Regions from separate parts of the Homo sapiens genome. Here region 1 is linked to region 2. A link means that fine-mapping ties the variant in region 2 to the expression of a gene that starts in the linked region. Tissue or cell type: whole blood. Region 2 holds a variant in brackets; the other region holds the start of a gene. All regions are shown on one strand. Distances are between the middles of the regions.

What was found. PIP is the estimated chance that this variant, and not a neighbour inherited with it, causes the effect.
Region 1: it holds the start of ULK4, and the variant in region 2 is fine-mapped to the expression of ULK4 in whole blood (INTERVAL, PIP above 0.99).

What each region holds. Positions count from the first base shown.
Region 1 is chr3:41,959,523-41,965,132 of GRCh38, forward strand. It overlaps ULK4 (unc-51 like kinase 4), which reads right to left and starts at 2,581. Exons shown (of 37, transcript NM_017886.4): 1 at 2,494-2,581. RefSeq lists enhancers at 2,551-2,710, 2,861-2,910.
Region 2 is chr3:41,914,010-41,920,489 of GRCh38, forward strand. It overlaps ULK4 (unc-51 like kinase 4), which reads right to left. Exons shown (of 37, transcript NM_017886.4): 6 at 5,708-5,809; 7 at 4,448-4,531; 8 at 1,968-2,043. Among named protein-coding and RNA genes, the nearest start is that of ULK4, 45 kb to the right of the region's middle. The variant T/C (reference allele first, on the strand shown) is at 3,536.

The DNA.
Region 1 (5,610 bases), 45 kb after region 2:
AAAAAAATAATAATAATTAATTAATTAAAAACAAAAAGGCACTGGTTAGTATCTTTCTTTTAATGACGGTTTCCCTAAGTCCTTTTTACATCCCTCTTCGTTCTAAAACCCATTCATTAAAAAGAACCAATCCTGGCCTAGCACAGTGCCTCATGTCTGTAATCCCAACGCTTTCGGAGGTGGAGGCAGGATTGTCTGAAGCCAAGAGTTCAAGACCAGCCTGGGCAACATGGTGAGATCCCGACTCTACACAAATAAAATAGCCTGGCATGGTGGTGCATGCCTGTAGTCCCAGCTATATGGTATGTATTATAACCAAAATAAGATTAAACTGACAGTATGTTAAGATGGGAAGTTACTAAGCCAGAAAAAATATAATCAGAAACCTTAAGTGTTCACAAATTGTCTACATTAGGATATCTCAGGATAAGATGATAAAATAAGTTTTCATACAGTATGTATAACTGATTTCTTGAAAATAAGGTTTTAGGCTACAAGGGAAAAAATTAAGTAAAATCTTGATTTTTTTTTTTTTTAAAGGAGGCTAGGTCTTGAACCCCTGGGCTCAAGCAATCCTCCTGCCTCAGCCTCCCAAAATTCTGGAATTACAGGTGCAAGCCACCATCCAGCCCATCTTGAAATTTTGAATTTGATTTAGGCCAAATTCATTTCCTTAATCTTTAGTCACATCTGACCATCAAGTCACATGTGGACAATTTCAGTCTGAAATTAACAAAACACATTAGTTATAAATCTGCTTAGATAGGGTGGTTTGTTACTTTCAAGCATTTCTCCTCTCTAAGGCTGTTTCCTTAGAGTAAAATAAGAATTGGATCAAATGATTTTCTTTTTTTTTTTTGGACAGGGTCTCACTCAGTGGCCCAGGCTGGTGTGCAGGGGCAAGATCTAGGCTCACTGCAACCTCCACCTCCAGGGTTCAAACGATTCTCGTGCCTCAGCCTCCAGAGTAGCCACCTCAGCCTCTGGCACACCACCACACCCAGTTAATTTTTTGTGTTTTTGGTAGATATGGAGTTTCACTATGTTGCCCAGGCTGGTCTAGAACTCCTGGCCTCAAGTGATCCGCCTGCCTCGGCCTTCCAAAGTGCTAGGATTACAGGTGTGAGCCACCGCGCCTGGCACTAAGTTATCTTTCAATAACTTATTAATAGTTGAAATTCCATGACTTTAAGATTCTTTGACTCAGTCCAAACACGTTCCCCATTACAGACTTCCTAATATTCATTTTTAAAGCTGTAACCTCTTAATTATAAAATAAAACACAAGTACAGAAAACTCCACAGAATACATAGTTTAATGAATTACTAAAGAGGGACACCCTTCTAATCACCACCCAAAGTCAGGAAATAGGACTTTGCCAGCCACACAAGCAGCCCCTCTGTGAGCCTGTCTCAATCACCACCCCTCCTGATCCCCAAAAGTTAACCACCCCCTGACTTTCGTAGTCATCACTTCCTTAGGTTTCTTCATGGTTTTCTCACTCGAGTGTGCTTTCCCAGAAACCACAGTTTAGTCTCTTAACCTATAGTGCTCCTAAGGAAGTCTCTCTTAATTCACAAGTTCACCTAAGAAGCATCTAAGAAGCCAGAAGGCAGAGCAAATCACATACAGGTGCAAATGAGGCATTTAAGAGTCGGGGGCAGGTCCTACATTCAAGGAACGCTGAGAGCGAACAGGTGATAAGAGCGCACAGGTGCCCACTTTCAGCACAATCATGACTCCCGCACCAGAAGCATGAGCATCACCTGGGACTTAATACAAAAGAAAAAGTTATCGGCCCTGCCCCAAATTTACGGAATCATACACTACGGCGGTAGGGCCTGGCCTTCTGTGTTACTACACGCCCTGGGGTGACTGGGATGCGCTCAAGTCTGCGAAATGCCAGCCAAATCAACCCCGAGATGTAACCGATGGCGCGCGCCACACTAAGCACTCCATAGGTGCTCCTCCTCGCCGCACTTCACAGACTCAATTATCACAGACTCAGGGGCGCTACGTAGTCACTCACCCCCCCCCCCCCCCCCCCCGCTCCCCAGGCAACTCGCGGCGGGCGAATCGGCGGCTTTCGCGGCCTCGCTACGTCCGTAGGCATCAGTCCGCGAGACCGGCTGGGAGCCTAGGAAGCGCTGCAGGGCGGTGAAGACGCGGTCCGCTCTGGGAAGTTAAGAGATGGCGTCCATAAAGCACATCTCCCAAGCCGAAACACACAAGCACTCTCTCTCCCCGCTGCACCCAGGTCCTAGAAGAGGCGTCCCGTGTGCCCTTAACTAACGCCCGGATAAAAACGGGCGGCTTTTTTAACACGAGCGCAAAGCAGGGGAGCGCAGGGGGTACGGGGTCCACTGGCAGAAGGAGAGAGGGCGGCCAGGCGCCACCACCCACCCGCCCCGGCAGGCCTGCGCGCTCTTCCGCGACCGCTTAGGCAGACACGAACTCAGACTCGTAGCTACTAAAACCGCCACTGCCACGCACCTGGTAGCTAAGTCAAGAAAAGAGTCCAGTCCACTTGGCTGCTCCCGCGGTTGCGCGCATCTCGGCCTCTGCCTCAGGACAGGTCCACAGGCCCAAGAATGGGGGAGAAAGCAGTGAAGCAAAGCGGAACGCGCGGAAGAAGCCGACCAGCCTTACGGAGGCGACGCCCCTCCAGGTTTGGATTCGTCCATACGGTTTCCACGGCAGCACACAGAACGCCGGAAGAAGCTCAGGAAGCCGACTGGCTGTGCAGTTTCCGTTCCTGTTGGCTGGGGCCCGGAAGTGAGAGACCACGAGGGCCCCTCCCTCCACCCAAAGGGCATCACGCCCTGCCTTTGGACGAGCCCACAGGCCAGAGACTGGGGCGGGAAGTGCTGGAGTAACAGTCATAGTGGTCGGCCCACCATCCCTCTATGTTTGGATTTGCTCATTCCATCTCCATGGCAGCACGCAGAACGCTGGAAAAACGCAAAGCGCTGATTGGTTAAGAGTCTCAGTTCCTATTGGCCAGAGTCCGAAGTGGGAGCCCGTGAGGGACTACTCTTCAATCTTAAGTGGGTGCTGAGGCTAGAGTGTGGAGAACTGAGACCTCGTCATTTCTTCTCTTCCCGTTCCCACTGTCCTTCTGTTTCCTTCCATTCTTTTCTTTCTGGCTTCTTCTGGGAGCTCAGGTAGACATGGTGGCATAGTCTGGATAACCAACGCCTCAGAAGCAGGGGCCCCGGGGTCCTCACCATTTAGAAAAGAGAAGGCTGTGAATTACCTTCCTTTTTGGAGATGGAGGAAACAGATGAGACACTCTGATCTCAAGTTGATTGTGTAAACTAAAAATAAAAGTTCCAAGCCCCCCTACCAACTGAGTGGATCCCTCCTCTGGGCCAAAGGCACGCCAAAGTTAACCTGAAGAACTAGCTCAGGCAATGATGGGAAGATGGGGTGGGACAGGCCTCATTATACCCTCCTCCCGTTGGAATACAGGCACAGCTGACCAGCGTTAACATTAAACAGAGACCTTAAGACTGACAAAACAGACTTTTTTGCAGCAATAAGATACCAACATGGCAGCAGGCCCCAAAAGACATTGAAGTATTTTATCCTGATATATATATACACACACATAGACAAACACACACACACATATACTCTTATGTATACATATATACTCATATACGTATATATATATATATTTTTTTTGAGACAGTCTCGCTGCATCACACAGACTAGAGGGCAGTGGCGCAATCTCGGCTCACTGCAACCTCCACCTCCTGGGTTCAAGTGATTCTCCTGCCTCAGCCTCCCAAGTAGCTGGGATTACAGGCGTGTGCCACCACACCAGCTAATTTTTGTATTTTTAGTAGAGACAGGGTTTCACTGTGTTGGCCAAGCTCATCTTGAACTCCTGACCTCAGGTGATCCACCCGCCTTGGCCTCCCAAAGTGCTGGGATTACAGGTGTGAGCCACCGTGCCTGGCCAAATATATTTATTTGACATATTTTGAAATGGCCTTGCAGAGCTATCTCTTCTGGGGGGAATCTACATTCTGTAAAGAATCCCCTTGTCTTTCCAGGTCTTTTCCCTGATGCTGGAGAGAATTAACTGAGAACCTGACACCTGTTTTAAGTCTGATAAGAAACATTTACAATCTATTCTCTCTGAAACCTGCTACATAGAGGCTTCATCTGCAGAACAAGAACCCTGGTCTCTGCAACCTCTTATCTCAACCCAGACACTGCCTTCTATTGGCTCCAGGTCTTTATATAATAACTCTTTTAACCAATTGCCAATTGTAGGGTATATGGATGTGCTTTGGTCAAGGAATAGGCCAAGGTGGACATCCGGGCCAGAGTGGCTCAGCGAGTTTAGGACACAGGCGCATATTCCACTTGTTATGTAACCCGTTTATGTAAGTTCATACTTGGATCTGAGCCACTATTGTCTGTAGAAGGTATAACTGCCCTGCTGACACTGTGCCCAGGTCTGAGTTCAGCACGACACGACCCGGTTCGTGCACTGGTGCCCAGAGTAATGCTACTAACCCCTCTAAGGGAGAGCGGTTGCCCTTAAGGTGGGCAGAGGGGAGCCGAGCCAGGAACCAGCTTGTGCCCAGAGGGAGAGTTAAGCTGCTGACCCTGACAGAGCTGGCTTTGCAGGCCAGGGTGTGCAGCTGCAGGCATGGGGGCAACAGGAGCCACAGAGCCAGAACAGACAGCCGAGATAAAGGTGGACAGTGTGAGAGAGCTAGTGTGATTAAGCTGCTGATGACACAGCCGCTGAATAAAACTACATTTCACTTGCCTACACGCCCCCAACCCTCCTTGTGTTCTTTCAGTTATTCGCCCATCCACCCACTCCCCTTGGACCTCAGCTGGGGGCTGGAACCTGACAATTGGCGTAGTCGTGGCATAACACCAATCACCTATTAAATCCACCCTATGATGTAGAAGCTCTTTCCAGCTTCGAGTTGTCCCACCTTTCCTGACCCAACCAATACCTTATGTCATGTATTGATTGATGTCTTATTTCTCCGTAAAACATGTAAAACCGAGCTGCAGCTCAGTCACCTTAGCTGTCAGGCCTCTGAGCCTAAGCTAAGCCATCATATCCCCTGTGACCTGCACGTATACATCCAGATGGCATGAAGCAACTGAAGATCCACAAAAGATGTGAAAATAGCCTTAACTGATGACATTCCACCATTGTGATTTGTTTCTGCCCCACCCTACCTGATCAATTTACTTTGTAATCTCCCCCACCCTTAAGAAGGTTCTTTGTAATTCTCCCCACCCTTGAAAATGTACTTTGTGAGATCCATCCTCTGCCCGCAAAACATTGTTCCTGACTCCACCGCCTATCCCAAAACCTATAAGAACTGACGATAATCCCACCACCCGCTGCTGACTCTCTTTTCAAACTCAGCCCACCTGCACCCAGGTGAAATAAACAGCCTTGTTGCTCACACGAAGCCTGTTTGGTGGTCTCTTCACACGGACACGTGAGACATTAGCCATATGTTCCTAGGGCCTCTTGAGACTGTGCCTCGAGCCATGGTCACTCAGATTTGGCTCAGAATAAATCTCTTTAAATATTTTACAGAGTTTAACTCTTTTTGTCAACCA
Region 2 (6,480 bases):
ATATACATTCACACCTTGTTTAGGAATCAAAATAATATTACCTAGCTAGTTCACTTGCATTAAAATGACTTTAGGTTGTATTTAAAACTCAGGCTCACTTTCAAAAGATTAAGTTTCACTACTAATAGAGTATACCTCTAGATATACTCACCAGAGTGGGAAAATTAAGCCTGACTGAAATTTTAAAACAAAAAAGAAAAGAATTTATAGTCGACTAATCATTCAAAATTTCTGTATTAAATAAAATTACTTCAATCAAAAGTAAAACACAAATAATAGAATTTGCAACCACATATAATATTCCTTTACACAAAGGTTCTTATGGTTCACTAAAGGAGAAATAAAAATAGCCAACAAAGTAAAATGTATTTTCATCCATCAAACTGACAAAAATGTAGATCAACAAGGCACACTGTAGATGAGAGTGGGAGGGAAGGAGCTTTCTAACATATTGTTGCTGGGAGTGTAAATCAGCACATGTTCCTAGAATGCAGGAAATGTATCAAACTTTTTAAATGCTCTTAGCCTTTGGCCAGCCATTTCATTTTGAGAAATTCACATCAAAGAGATAACTAACCAAGTAAACCCAAAAAAATTTTAAAAATTCACAAAAGGATATTTACTGTAACAACACATATAATATTCCAAATCAAGAGGCATTCTAAACGTTTACTTTTTTATAGGTAATTGTATATACGTTCTACAGCCATTTAAAATGACCAGGCAGCCAGGTACAGTGGCTCACACCTGAAATCCCAGCACTTTGGGAGGCCGAGGCAGGCGGAACTGCTTGAGGCCAGGAGCTCGAGACCAGCATAGCCAACATGGTGAAACCCCATCTCTACTAAAAACACAAAAATTAGCTGAGGATGGTGGCACGCGCCTGAAATCCCAGCTACTTGGGAGGCTGAGGCATGAGAAACACTTGAACCCAGGTTGCAGTGAGCCAAGATTGTGCCACTGCACTCCAGCCTGGGTGACAGAGCAAGACTCAGAAATGGAAATGGAAAAATATGCATAATGTACCATGAGAGAAAAAAGTAGGTTATGGAGTGGTCCCATGTAAGCAAAAAATTATATAGCATACAGTTATAAATGTAGGGATATGTGGATACACCGTCTTAAGTAAATTAGGTATAGTTACATCCTATCAAAAGATGTCTGAAAAATTATCCACCAAAATAACACTAATGTTGAAAGCATTCTAATATAAGTAAAGGATGTTTGTCCTACAGCTTATACAAAAATCAGCATTTCCTTCTGCAGTTTTTAAAATATATTTAATAAAAGAATGGATTCTTGTATATGCTACACTAAATTTATTCTCCATTTTATAAACGGAACCCTCCTCCCATCACCCCATCCCAGTTACCTAGTGACAGAACCAGAACTAGAAACTAGTTGTTTGGGCCTCTTTCCCACTCTGGTCTACCTCCTAGCCTCCCCTACCCTGTGCCTCAACAATGATTTCTAACATTGCCATCACTGACAGAAAATTCACAAGGTGCCTATTATCCTATCACTTAATAGCCCCATTATGACAGGAGTGTCATAAAACCTGTTTTTATGACACTCAGTTAACAGCATCTTAACTTGACAATATCATCCCTCGGTCAATAGTCAAACAGTTTTAGCCTGAAATACAAAATACAAGAAATGGTACCTCTTGGATTTGGGAGTTATAAGAAAATTTGTCAACTACTTAATACATGAAAAGAGAAACTGACTTCAAAAATTCCTCATGATTAAAAACACCTGCAAACTGAGAGAAAAACTTTTAATCCGAAGTCAGACTTCTTTAAAAAATAATAATTTGAATAGCTATTTGTATATTAAGAACAGCACCATTTTAGAAGTACATAAAAGGGGGAAAAGATTTCATTATTTATTCCCATTAAAATACTGCCCCTTACTCCATTTGCAGAACTCAAAAGAAAAAGAAAAAAAGATCGAACTACTGTCCCTACCTTTTCTGAGGATCTCTTTGAAGTAACCCATCAAGCAAATTAATAAAATCTGAAGAAGCTTTAGGACGAGAAGAATCTATAAATGAATTAATTTCCAAGAAAAAATGATAAGTAGTAAATACATATCAATTTTATTTTTATCTCTTACATCAACATTTAAAGCAATAGTATTTTAAACACATACATTATTATTAAGAGAACACTAAATCCATTAACAACAATTATATCCTCTATTTAATGGGGCAGGATGGGGAGGTACAGAACACAAAGATTAAAAACATTTTTTCCTAGATCACAAAAAAGAAATGTAAATCTCAAAAACTAAGTCTTAACAAACCTCTAAGCCTTCTCTTCACTGAACAATCCCAATAAGGATCACCAGCTTAACAAACTCAAACACTTGTCTTCAACTATTTTGGGGGAGTTTTTTGAGATAGAGTCTTGCTCTGTCACCCAGGGTGGAGTGCAGTGGCACCATCATGGTTCACTCCAGCCTCTACCTCCCAGGCTCAAGTGATCCTCTCACCCCAGCCTCCAGAGTAGGTGGGACTACAGGCATGCACTACCATGCCTGACTAATTTTTGTTTATTTTTTATAGAGATGGGGTCTCACTATGCTGCCTAAGTTAGTCTCCAACTCCTGGGCTCCAGTGATCCACCTGCCTTGGATCTCCTAAAGTGCTGCAATTACAATTACAAGTGTGAGCCACTATGCTCAGCTCCAACTATTTTTTTTTTTTTTTTTTTGGAGAATGAGTTTCACTCTTCTTGCCCAGGCTGGAGTGCAATGGAGCGATCTCAGTTCACTGCAACCTCTGCCTCCCAGGTATATGCGATTCTCCTGTCTCAGCCTCCCAAGTAGCTCGGATTACAGGCATGTGCCACCATGCCTGGCTAATTTTTTTGTATTTAGTAGAGACAGGGTTTCACCATGATAGTCAGGCTGGTCGTGAACTCTTGACCTCAGGTGATCCACCCACCTCAGCCTCCCAAAGTGCTAGGATTACAGGTGTGTGCCACCATGCCCGGCCCCAGCTTAACTATTAATTATACCTTATTCTTTTAAGTATTCCTAACTTGAACAACTAAGAATATTTGCAATCCCTCTTTTAAGATTTTTAACAGAAATAAGAAGCATTATAATATGACACTGTCCAATACCACTAATCTCATAATGTTTTGTCTTTTTAAATTAGTTATATACCATATCCAGGTCATCAGTCTATGGTTAAAAGTAGTAGTAATGGCCACACATTGTGGCTCATACTTGAAATCCCAGCACTTTGAGAGGCCAAGGCAGGCGGATCACTCGAGGCCAGGAGTTCAAGACAAGCTAGGCTACATACCAAGACCTTGTCTCCACCAAAAAATTAAAAAATTAGCCATTCCCAGTGGTGTGCCCCTATAGTCCCGGCTACTTGGGAGGTTGACTGCACCACTGCACTCCAGCCTGAGTGACACAGCAGCACAGCAGAACCCTGTCTCTCAAATATATATATATGTATATATAGCAATAATTTTTGTAGAATCCTGTTTTCATTTATGTGTCTTAAGATAAACTTTAACAA[T/C]GTATAGCAAAATGTTTTACTACACTTGTGCCTTCTTTTGTTTTCCTTTCCTTAAAAATTATTGCTGATAGATCATTATATTAACCACAATTTATATGATTAAAGTTCCAACACTTTAAAAATAATACAACTGTATCTAATTTTAAAGATTTTTAGGCCGGGCGCAGTGGCTCACGCCTGTAATCCCAGCACTTTGGGAGGCTGAGGTGGGTGGATCATGACATCAGGAGTTTGAGACCAGCCTGGCCAAGATGGTGAAACCCCGTCTCTAATAAAAAACAAAAAACAAAAAATTAGCCGGGTGCCGTGGTGGGCACCTGTAGTCCCAGCTACTCGGGAGGCTGAGGCAGGAGAACTGCTTGAACCCGGGAGGCGGAGGTTGCAGTGAGCCGAGAACACGCCACTGCACTCCAGCCTGGGCAACAGAGCAAGACTCTGTCTCAAAAATAAATAAATAAATAAATAAATAAATAAATAAATAAATAAATAAAGATTTTTAAAACTTATAAGGGTAGCATTCTGATTCATCAAGATAAGGAAATGGTGAATTTGTTCCAACAGGAGATAGAAATAACCACATGGGATACGACTACAAAGTAAGTAAATGGTACATACAAAAAGCAATGTCACATAAGGGTTTAAGTTTTTTAAGTCTTTAAGCCATACTTTTTATGATATAGATGCACAAAATAGTTTTTAAATGAGGGAAATCTATTAGTACTTTGTTTTCTGTTTCAGCATCTTTAAAAAATGGCAAAAGAAATACTAACATTTCTAAAAATATCAACTTGGGATCATTTATAAAAGATAACTTTGGGGAGTTATGAATCAATAAAAGCAAACGTTGGATAAAGGTACACCTTTAATCAGTGTAAAATGTAAATTAATTCCATTTATCATAAGAAATCTTACCTTTCGGAATAGGTGGCAAAGGATCTTCACATAAGATCTTTTCAGTTAATTCTGAAATACTTTCTGAGAAGAATGGAGGTTTTCCTGAAATCACATGAAAACTTGCAAAATGAAAGAAGTCTGCTATCACCAATAATTCTTTTTTTTTTTTTTTTTTTTTTTTGAGATGGAGTCTTGCTCTGTCACCCAGGCTGGAGTGCAGTGGCGCAATCTCGGCTCACTGCACACTCCGCCTCCTGGGTTCAGGCCACTCTCCTGCTTCAGCCTCCCCAGCAGCTGGGACCACAGGCGCACGCTGCCACGCCCAGCTAATTTTTTGTATTTTTAGTAGAGATGGGGTTTCACCGTGTTAGCCAGGATGGTCTCAATCTCCTGACCTCGTGATCCGCCCGCCTCGATCTCCCAAAGTGCTGGGATTACAGGCGTGAGCCACCACACCTGGCCTTGCTATCACCAATAATTCTAATCTCAACTACAGATATTTCAAGATTATACAACTTATAGAAAAAATATATAGCAATAGCTATTTAATGCCTAGTATGTACGAGGCACTGCCTATATATTTCTCTTACTTCAAAATGTATTATCATCCTAACAAATACACAAACACACATATGGACCACTACTATGAACCAATGGGTGCATGGGCCATTCAAATCATCTGAATAATACACAATTGCAAGGCATCTTTACAAAAATTTCTAATAATCACAATTTTTGAGTTAGGCACATTTCAGCATTCCAGATTATCATGAAAAATTACCTATTTATCAAGAACTTTCTAGGAATCTGCATATGCCTAGATACCAAGCAACTCAGCCAAAATCAGTATACATAAAAATTTATAAGGTCACAGTTTTTTTGGCCAGGCACAGTGGCTCATGCCTATAATCCCAGAGCTTTGGGAGGCCTAAGCAGGCAGATCACTTGAGGTCAGGCATTCAAGACCAGCCTGGCCAACATGGTGAGACCCGCTCTCTACTAAAAATAGAAAAAACTGCCAGGCATGGTGGTGGGCACCTGTAAGCCCAGCTACTCGGGAAGCTGAGACACAGGAATGGCTTGAACCCAGGAGGCAGAGGTTGTAGTGAGCCGAGATCGTGCCACTGCACTCCAGACTGGGTGACAGTACGAGACTCTGTCTCAAAATAAAAAAAAATCTAGTTTTTTCACATCTTATAGGTAAAACATCTGCAAAGTACAGACTTAACCTGGTTTTTAGTCCAGCTCTGATTTTATACCTATTCAGGAAACAATTACCTGAAAACATTTCATAAAGCAGACAGCCCAAAGACCAGAGGTCACTGGAGATGGAAAAGTCAGCACCCCTCACAACTTCTGGTGCTGTATATACAGGAGATCCTAAAAGCAAAGTATGAAGAACAGCTCGGTTAGGCATTTGTATTGCTGCCAACACGAACCCACCTAGGAAAGATCTGATGAGATGAAAAAGGGCAGGAGAAAAACATGCGCATGAATAAAACTTCATGTGCATTTCACATTTTTAAATGTTTTCTAATTTTAAGGTTACATTTTGCAAAGGATGTGTGTGAATATAAAAAAGTGTTTAAAATCTACCTGAGAGGTATGGCACATTCAGCTACATTCTTCTTTTAAATTTCAATTAGAATAGTTTAAGTTAAACCTTCAATATAACAACCCCAACATCCCACTGGCTTAACAGCAAAGGTTTATCTATCACTAAACATGTCCACAACAAATCTACCAAGAAGCTCTGATCCTCATAGTCACTCAAAGACCCAGGCTGATAGAGGCTCCAACTCCACTCATGCTTCCTCACTTGGAGGCAGGGAGAAAGAATGTAGCTAACTGAACACTGGCTCCTAAAATTCCCATCTCAAAGTTACTCACATCACTTCCGCTCACACTTAGTTGGCTTTGACCAGGGAGAGGATGCAATCCTACCATCTATCCAGGAGAATAGGAAATATTTAGTGAAAAGCCCCATTGTGTGCCCCATATACTTTATACAAAGTTTAATATTACACAGAAATCCCATATTTTAGAGCCAG